2 linked regions of the Homo sapiens genome follow. The gene in region 1 interacts genetically with each later gene. Each region holds a gene or a part of one and is shown in the gene's direction. Other genes may lie near its edges.

Region 1 (3,822 bases):
TCTGAGGCTTGGTTTTACTTTGCTGTGTTTTTAGAAATCTCTAAAGCCCCAAGGTTAATTTTGTCCTAATGAAGAGCTTTATGCTTTTTATAGCATGTATACAGGTAATGTGAATTTTTCTGCTGAAATATCACCACTCCACTCTAAAGAAAATGATTCTATAGGAGAGAGATATTTTGATTCAGGCCCCTTTATTGTCTGGTGTTTGAAAGACCACAGTGGACAGGAGAGGGTGCAGAGAGCGAGGCTGGGGAAGAGAAGCATTGGACAAGCCTGTACCTCTTTTATATATGCCCAAGACTTGCCTGATTCATTTTTATGGACTGCCCTGCTTTTGGCATAGAACAAGGGTAAAATAACCTTTCTAGCTACTCTTATTGAATATAAGGTCACCTAGCATGGAGTATCATCTATGAGTGTGATAAAAAAGCTCAGTTATAAGTCTAAGAAATGATATCCCTGAGCCTATGAAGTCACAGTCAGACAGGCCCCAAGTATTGTCTTCTGTTTTGTTTTAGTTAGAAGTGGGCAGAGAGGAAGCTCACACTCCACATAGTCATTGTGCATATTATGTATCCAATAAAGAAAATGTGAACGTCTTGGTCTGCTAGTAAGAAGGAGTTGGAATTTCATTTTGTAATCCAGGTGTTCCCAAATCATGTTTTGAATTACTGTGTTACATATACAGAGCCCTTCTGCTCTTTCAGTAGTATGTAAAGCCCCAAAGGTAGGATTTAAAAGGGGATAGTAGAAAAAATACTGATGGCAGTGGACTTCATCTAGTTAATTGTAAGTTCCTGGAGGGCAGGGACTCTGTCACTTTGGCAGCCAGCCTCCTGTTAATACCAGTTGACTGAATGAGGTGGATTGTGATGACAAGGTGGTGTAAGATTTCATACAGAAATCACCTGCCAGGCTGCTTTAAGACTAGGGGTTGTCCAAGGCAGGAATTCCTAACTGGGAGAGGATCCTGGCTGCCAGTCCTCTCCTACCCCTTACCTCTCAGCAGCCATAATGCTTAAAGGAAATCCCAAGAAGATTCTCAGTAGAGGGCTGGGGTCCCTTGGTTCACACCATTGATAGAATTTAGACAGGAATGTTCAGGGATGGCATGCATACCTGAAACAGAGGTTGCTTCTTTGGATTCCTATTTGGAAATCTGAGTATCCCAGCAGCTTGTAGAAATGGACATCTTCAGAGAGCTGAGCCACTGACCCCTCCGGAGGAAGGCCAAACAGTGTGGTCGTTGCTTGGTTTGTTGGGCTGAATGCCTTAAATGGTTATTACAGTTAGTAAAGCCTGGAAACTTTTAAAAATAGGTCAGGGGTCCATAAGATACTATGGTACACATCTACATGGGAATCTTTCAAGTCTAAAAACACAGGGTTTTTGTTTTTGTCACTGGATCATGTGTGCACTTAGGTTTCATCAGATTTTCAAGGAAAGGGGAAATACTGGTGATGAAGTGTTTTCAGGATAGAGCTCTAGGTATTAGGGAAAGAGTAGTGAACAAGACAGACATGGTCCCTGTCTTCATGTTAATAAACTACTAGATGAAATATGAAAGGTGCTGTGATCTGGGGGTGGAGGAGCCAACATAGAGTCTTATGTGTGCATGTTTTTTTCTGTATCCTGTTTCATTTTTGTATCAAATGTGGATTGAGTGGAACACCTATGATGTGCCAGGCCCTATACTAAGTGTTAGATATAGAATGATAAAGTTAAGGTCTCTGTCTCCGTGGGGAACCCTGAATATGTACAGCAAACCATCTTGTCTGTTAGGCATGGCATTTATGAGGTCCATTTTTCAGGATCACATGTTTTGTGGCTTTTACTCAAACCAAATGGGATTTTGTAAATGTGAGGTTGGGGGCGGTGGTGTTGTTGGGGGTTACTTATACACCATTTGAACAGACACCACTTCTTTTCTATTTATATTTCCTGTCTGAATTCCAGATTGGCGGCAGTAAGCACACAATGAATGATCACCTGCATGTCGGCAGCCACGCTCACGGACAGATCCAGGTTCAACAGTTGTTTGAGGATAACAGTAACAAGCGGACAGTGCTCACGACACAACCAAATGGGCTTACAACAGTGGGCAAAACGGGCTTGCCAGTGGTGCCAGAGCGGCAGCTGGACAGCATTCATAGACGGCAGGGGAGCTCCACCTCTCTAAAGTCCATGGAAGGCATGGGGAAGGTGAAAGCCACCCCCATGACACCTGAACAAGCAATGAAGCAATACATGCAAAAACTCACAGCCTTCGAACACCATGAGATTTTCAGCTACCCTGAAATATATTTCTTGGGTCTAAATGCTAAGAAGCGCCAGGGCATGACAGGTGGGCCCAACAATGGTGGCTATGATGATGACCAGGGATCATATGTGCAGGTGCCCCACGATCACGTGGCTTACAGGTATGAGGTCCTCAAGGTCATTGGGAAGGGGAGCTTTGGGCAGGTGGTCAAGGCCTACGATCACAAAGTCCACCAGCACGTGGCCCTAAAGATGGTGCGGAATGAGAAGCGCTTCCACCGGCAAGCAGCGGAGGAGATCCGAATCCTGGAACACCTGCGGAAGCAGGACAAGGATAACACAATGAATGTCATCCATATGCTGGAGAATTTCACCTTCCGCAACCACATCTGCATGACGTTTGAGCTGCTGAGCATGAACCTCTATGAGCTCATCAAGAAGAATAAATTCCAGGGCTTCAGTCTGCCTTTGGTTCGCAAGTTTGCCCACTCGATTCTGCAGTGCTTGGATGCTTTGCACAAAAACAGAATAATTCACTGTGACCTTAAGCCCGAGAACATTTTGTTAAAGCAGCAGGGTAGAAGCGGTATTAAAGTAATTGATTTTGGCTCCAGTTGTTACGAGCATCAGCGTGTCTACACGTACATCCAGTCGCGTTTTTACCGGGCTCCAGAAGTGATCCTTGGGGCCAGGTATGGCATGCCCATTGATATGTGGAGCCTGGGCTGCATTTTAGCAGAGCTCCTGACGGGTTACCCCCTCTTGCCTGGGGAAGATGAAGGGGACCAGCTGGCCTGTATGATTGAACTGTTGGGCATGCCCTCACAGAAACTGCTGGATGCATCCAAACGAGCCAAAAATTTTGTGAGCTCCAAGGGTTATCCCCGTTACTGCACTGTCACGACTCTCTCAGATGGCTCTGTGGTCCTAAACGGAGGCCGTTCCCGGAGGGGGAAACTGAGGGGCCCACCGGAGAGCAGAGAGTGGGGGAACGCGCTGAAGGGGTGTGATGATCCCCTTTTCCTTGACTTCTTAAAACAGTGTTTAGAGTGGGATCCTGCAGTGCGCATGACCCCAGGCCAGGCTTTGCGGCACCCCTGGCTGAGGAGGCGGTTGCCAAAGCCTCCCACCGGGGAGAAAACGTCAGTGAAAAGGATAACTGAGAGCACCGGTGCTATCACATCTATATCCAAGTTACCTCCACCTTCTAGCTCAGCTTCCAAACTGAGGACTAATTTGGCGCAGATGACAGATGCCAATGGGAATATTCAGCAGAGGACAGTGTTGCCAAAACTTGTTAGCTGAGCTCACGTCCCCTGATGCTGGTAACCTGAAAGATACGACATTGCTGAGCCTTACTGGGTTGAAAAGGAGTAGCTCAGACCTGTTTTTATTTGCTCAATAACTCTACTCATTTGTATCTTTTCAGCACTTAATTTTAATGTAAGAAAGTTGTTCATTTTGTTTTTATAAAATACATGAGGACAATGCTTTAAGTTTTTATACTTTCAGAAACTTTTTGTGTTCTAAAAGTACAATGAGCCTTACTGTATTTAGTGTGGC
Region 2 (3,822 bases), on another chromosome or scaffold:
ATTTTGTTGTTTCTCAGTTGTTTTCCAAAAGCAAAGGAAGTCTTAATGTTTTTTTCTATTTCGTGTTATGTGTGATTTGTTTATATGCTTGGTAATATGAGTCTAATGGAATTTAAAAATATAAGTTTGGGTAGGATAGTATACCCTTAAAAAATAAATAAATAATTAGAGAGAGAGAGAGAGAGAGAGACCTGGGCACAGTGGCTGTTGCCTGTAATCTCAGCACTTTGGGAGGTCAAGGCAGGAGGATCCTTTGAGGCCAGGAGCTTGAGACCAACCTGGGCAACATAGAGAGACCCCAACTCTAAAATATACATACTATATCTAAACTCAGCTAGGCGTGGTGGTGTGAGCCTGGAGTCCCAGCTACTCAGGAGGTTAAGGTGTGAGGATCACTTGATCCCAGGAGGTTGAGGAGGCAGTGAGCTATGATTGTGCCACAGTGCTTCAGCCAGGGTGACAGAGTGAGACCCTGTCTCTTAAAAAAAAGAAAAGAGGCTGGGTGCAGTGGCTCATGCCTGTAATCCCAGCACTTTGGGAAGCCAAGGTGGGCAGATCACGAGGTCAGGAGTTCAAGACCAGCCTGTCTAATATGGTGAAACCCCATCTCTACTAAAAATACAAAAATTAGCCGAGCATGGTGGAGTGCGCCTGTAGTCCCAGCTACTCGAGAGGCTGAGGCAGGAGAATCGCTTGAACCCGGGAAGTTGGAGGTTGCAGTGAGCTGAGATTGCGCCACTGCACTCCAGCCTGGGTGACAAAGTGAGACTCCATCTCAAAAAAAAAAAAAAAGAAGAAAGAAAAGCAAAGCAAAGCCCAGGCCTGTACCTACTAGAGGTCCTGATAACTTCACCACTGAATTCTATCAAACATTTCAAGAAAAATTAATACAGTTCTTCACAAAGTCTTCAAAAATGAAAAAGAGGAGAAAATACTTACAAACGAATTTTATGAGACTGGTATTACCCTGTTGCCAAAAACCAGGAAAAGACATTACAAGAAAAGAAAACCATAGACAAATATATCTTACAAATGTGGAAGCAAAAATCCTCAACAAAAATACTAGCAAACTGAATCCAGTAACATATAAAAATAATTATATACCATAAACAAGCAGGATTTATTCCAGGAGTGCAAGGTTGGTTTAACATCCAAAAATGAATTAGTGTAAATAATGTAATGCATTATATCAATAGAATAAAAAACAAAAATCACCTTGTCATCTCAGTAGACACAGAAAAAGCATTTGACAAAATTCAGCATGTTTTTCATGATAAAAACACTAAATAAACTAAGAAGAGAAGAGCAGTTCCTCAACCTGATACACAGCAGTTATGAAAAACCCACAGCTAACTTCATAATAGTGAGACTGAGGCCAGGCACAGTGGCTCACGCCTGTAATCCTAACACTTTAGGAGGCCAAGGTTGGAGGGATCACTTGAGGTCAGGAGTTCAAGAACAGCCTGGCCAACATGGTGAAACCCTGTCTCTACTACAAATACAAAAAAAAATTAGCCAGGTGTGGTGGTGCATACCTATAATTGTAGCTACTTGGGAGGCTGAGGTGGGAGGATTGCTTGAACCTGGGAGGCAGAGGTTGCAGTGAGCTGAGATAGCACTACTGCACACAATAGGCTGGGCGACAGAGCTCAAAACAAACAAACAAACAAACAAAATAGTGAAAGACTGTATGCTTATCCTTAAGATTAGGAAAAAGAGAGATAAGTCTACTTTCACTACTGCTATTCAGCATTGTACTGGAGGTTCTAGCCAGGGCAATTAGGCAAGAAAATGCAATAAAATACATCTATGTTGGAAGGGAACAAGTAAGATCATCTCTGCAGATGACATGATCTTGCATATAGACCCTGAGGAATCCACTACCAAAGTATTGGAACTAATAAATTATTAGTTTAGTAAGGTTATAGGATACAAGATCATTACACAAAACTTAGTTGTAAATGTATCCACTTGGAATGAACAATCTGAAAAGGAAATTAAGAAAATTCCATTTACAATAACCTAAAAAATAAAAATACTTATAACAAAAGAGGTATCTTTTTTTCCATCCTCTGACAGTTTAGTAAAAGAAAGTATAAAACTTATACTCTAAAAGCTGTAAAACATTTTTGGTTTTGTTTTTTAAATTAATTTTTTTTGAAACGGAGTCTCACTCTGTCGTCCAGGCTGGAATGCGGTGGCGCGATCTCGGCTCACTGCAACCTCTGCCTCCCAGGTTAAAGCGATTCTCCTGCCTCAGCCTCCGGAGTAGCTGGAGCTACAGGTGTGCACCACCATGCCTGGCTAATTTTTGTATTTTTAGTATAGAGGGGGTTTCACCATGTTGGCCAGGCTGGTCTCGAACTCCTGACCTCAGGTGATCCACCCGCCTCAGCCTCTGAAAGTCCTGGGATTACAGGCGTGAGCTAGTGCGCCCAGCCTGGCCTTTTAAAATATTTAATTAATTGATTTTTTTTTTTCTCGGACTTGCACTGAAGTGAGAACAAGTGCAGTGGTGCAATCATATCTCAGTGCAGCCTAGACCTTCCAGGCTTAAGTGATCCTCCTATATCAGCCTCCCAAGCAGCTCAGACCACAGGCATGCGCGATCATCCCTAGCTTTTTTTTTTTGTTTGTTTGTTTTTTAATTTCTTGTAGAGACAGAGTCTCCCTGTGTTACCCAGGCTGGTCTTGAACCTGACCTCAAGCAACCTCCCATGTTGGCCCCTCAAAGTGCTGGGATTACAGGTGTGAGCCACCGTGCCTGGCCTGTAAAACATTTTTAAAAGAAAGAAGATATAAATAAATAAATAAATAGAAAATAGCTCTTGTTCATGGATCATAAGACATAACGTTGTCAAATTGGCAGTATTTTGGAAATTGATCTACACGTTTGACATAATCCCTGTCAGAATCCCAGTTTATTTCATTGTAGAAATTGACAAGTCTCCAGGCGTAGTGGCTCATGCCTGTAATCCCAGCACTTTGGGAGGCCGAGGCAGGCGGATCACCTGAGGTCAGGAGTTCAAGACCAGCCTGGCCAACATGGAGAAACCCTGTCTCTACTAAAACTACAAAATTAGCCGGGTGTGGTGGCACATACCTGTAATCCCAGGTACTCGGGAGGCTGAGGCAGGGAATCGCTTGAACCTGGGAGGCGGAGCTTGCGGTGAGCTGAGATCACGCGCCACTGCACTCCAGCTTGGGCAACAAGAGCGAAACTCCATCTCAAAAAAAAAAAAGAAATTGACAAGTCAATTCATAAATTCCTATGGAATCGCAAGGGACCCACAATAGCTAAATCTTGAAAAAGAACAAAGCAGAAAGACTCACGCTTTGTGATTTCAAGACATACTATAAAACAACTAATCAAGACAACGTCACCAGGCACCGTGGCTTATGCCTATAATCCCAACACTTTGGGAGGCCAAGGCAGGCAGATCACTTGAGGACAGGAGTTCGAGACCAGCCTGGGCAACATGGCGAAATCTTGTCTCTACCAAAAATACAAAAATTAACCGGGCGTGGGGGTGCACACTTGTAGTCCAAGCTGCTTGGGAGGGCTGAGGCACAAGAATCCCTTGAACCCAGGAGGTGGAGGTTGCAGTGAGTCGAGATCGTGCTATTGCACTCCAGCCTGGGGGACAGAGCGAGATTCCATTTCAAAAAAATAAAAATAAAAAGACAGTGTGGTACTGGTATAAGGATAAATGTGTAGATCAGTGGCATAGAATTGAGAGTCCAGAAATAAACCCAGTGGAATAGAGTTGAGAGTTCATGGTCACCTGATTCTTGACAAGGGTGCAAAGACCATTCAGTGGG

Evidence for each region.
Region 2: changes in DYRK2 (region 1) and NF2 together harm fitness more than expected from each alone (negative genetic interaction), as found in Homo sapiens cells (one large-scale study listed by BioGRID).

What each region holds. Positions count from the first base shown.
Region 1 is NC_000012.12:67,655,150-67,658,971, forward strand, and holds part of DYRK2 (dual specificity tyrosine-phosphorylation-regulated kinase 2), read left to right. Parts: intron 1-1,956; coding exon 1,957-3,564; 3' UTR 3,565-3,822. UniProt on the Homo sapiens protein: Serine/threonine-protein kinase involved in the regulation of the mitotic cell cycle, cell proliferation, apoptosis, organization of the cytoskeleton and neurite outgrowth. Functions in part via its role in ubiquitin-dependent proteasomal protein degradation.
Region 2 is NC_000022.11:29,609,867-29,613,688, forward strand, and holds part of NF2 (merlin), read left to right. Parts: intron 1-3,822. UniProt on the Homo sapiens protein: Probable regulator of the Hippo/SWH (Sav/Wts/Hpo) signaling pathway, a signaling pathway that plays a pivotal role in tumor suppression by restricting proliferation and promoting apoptosis.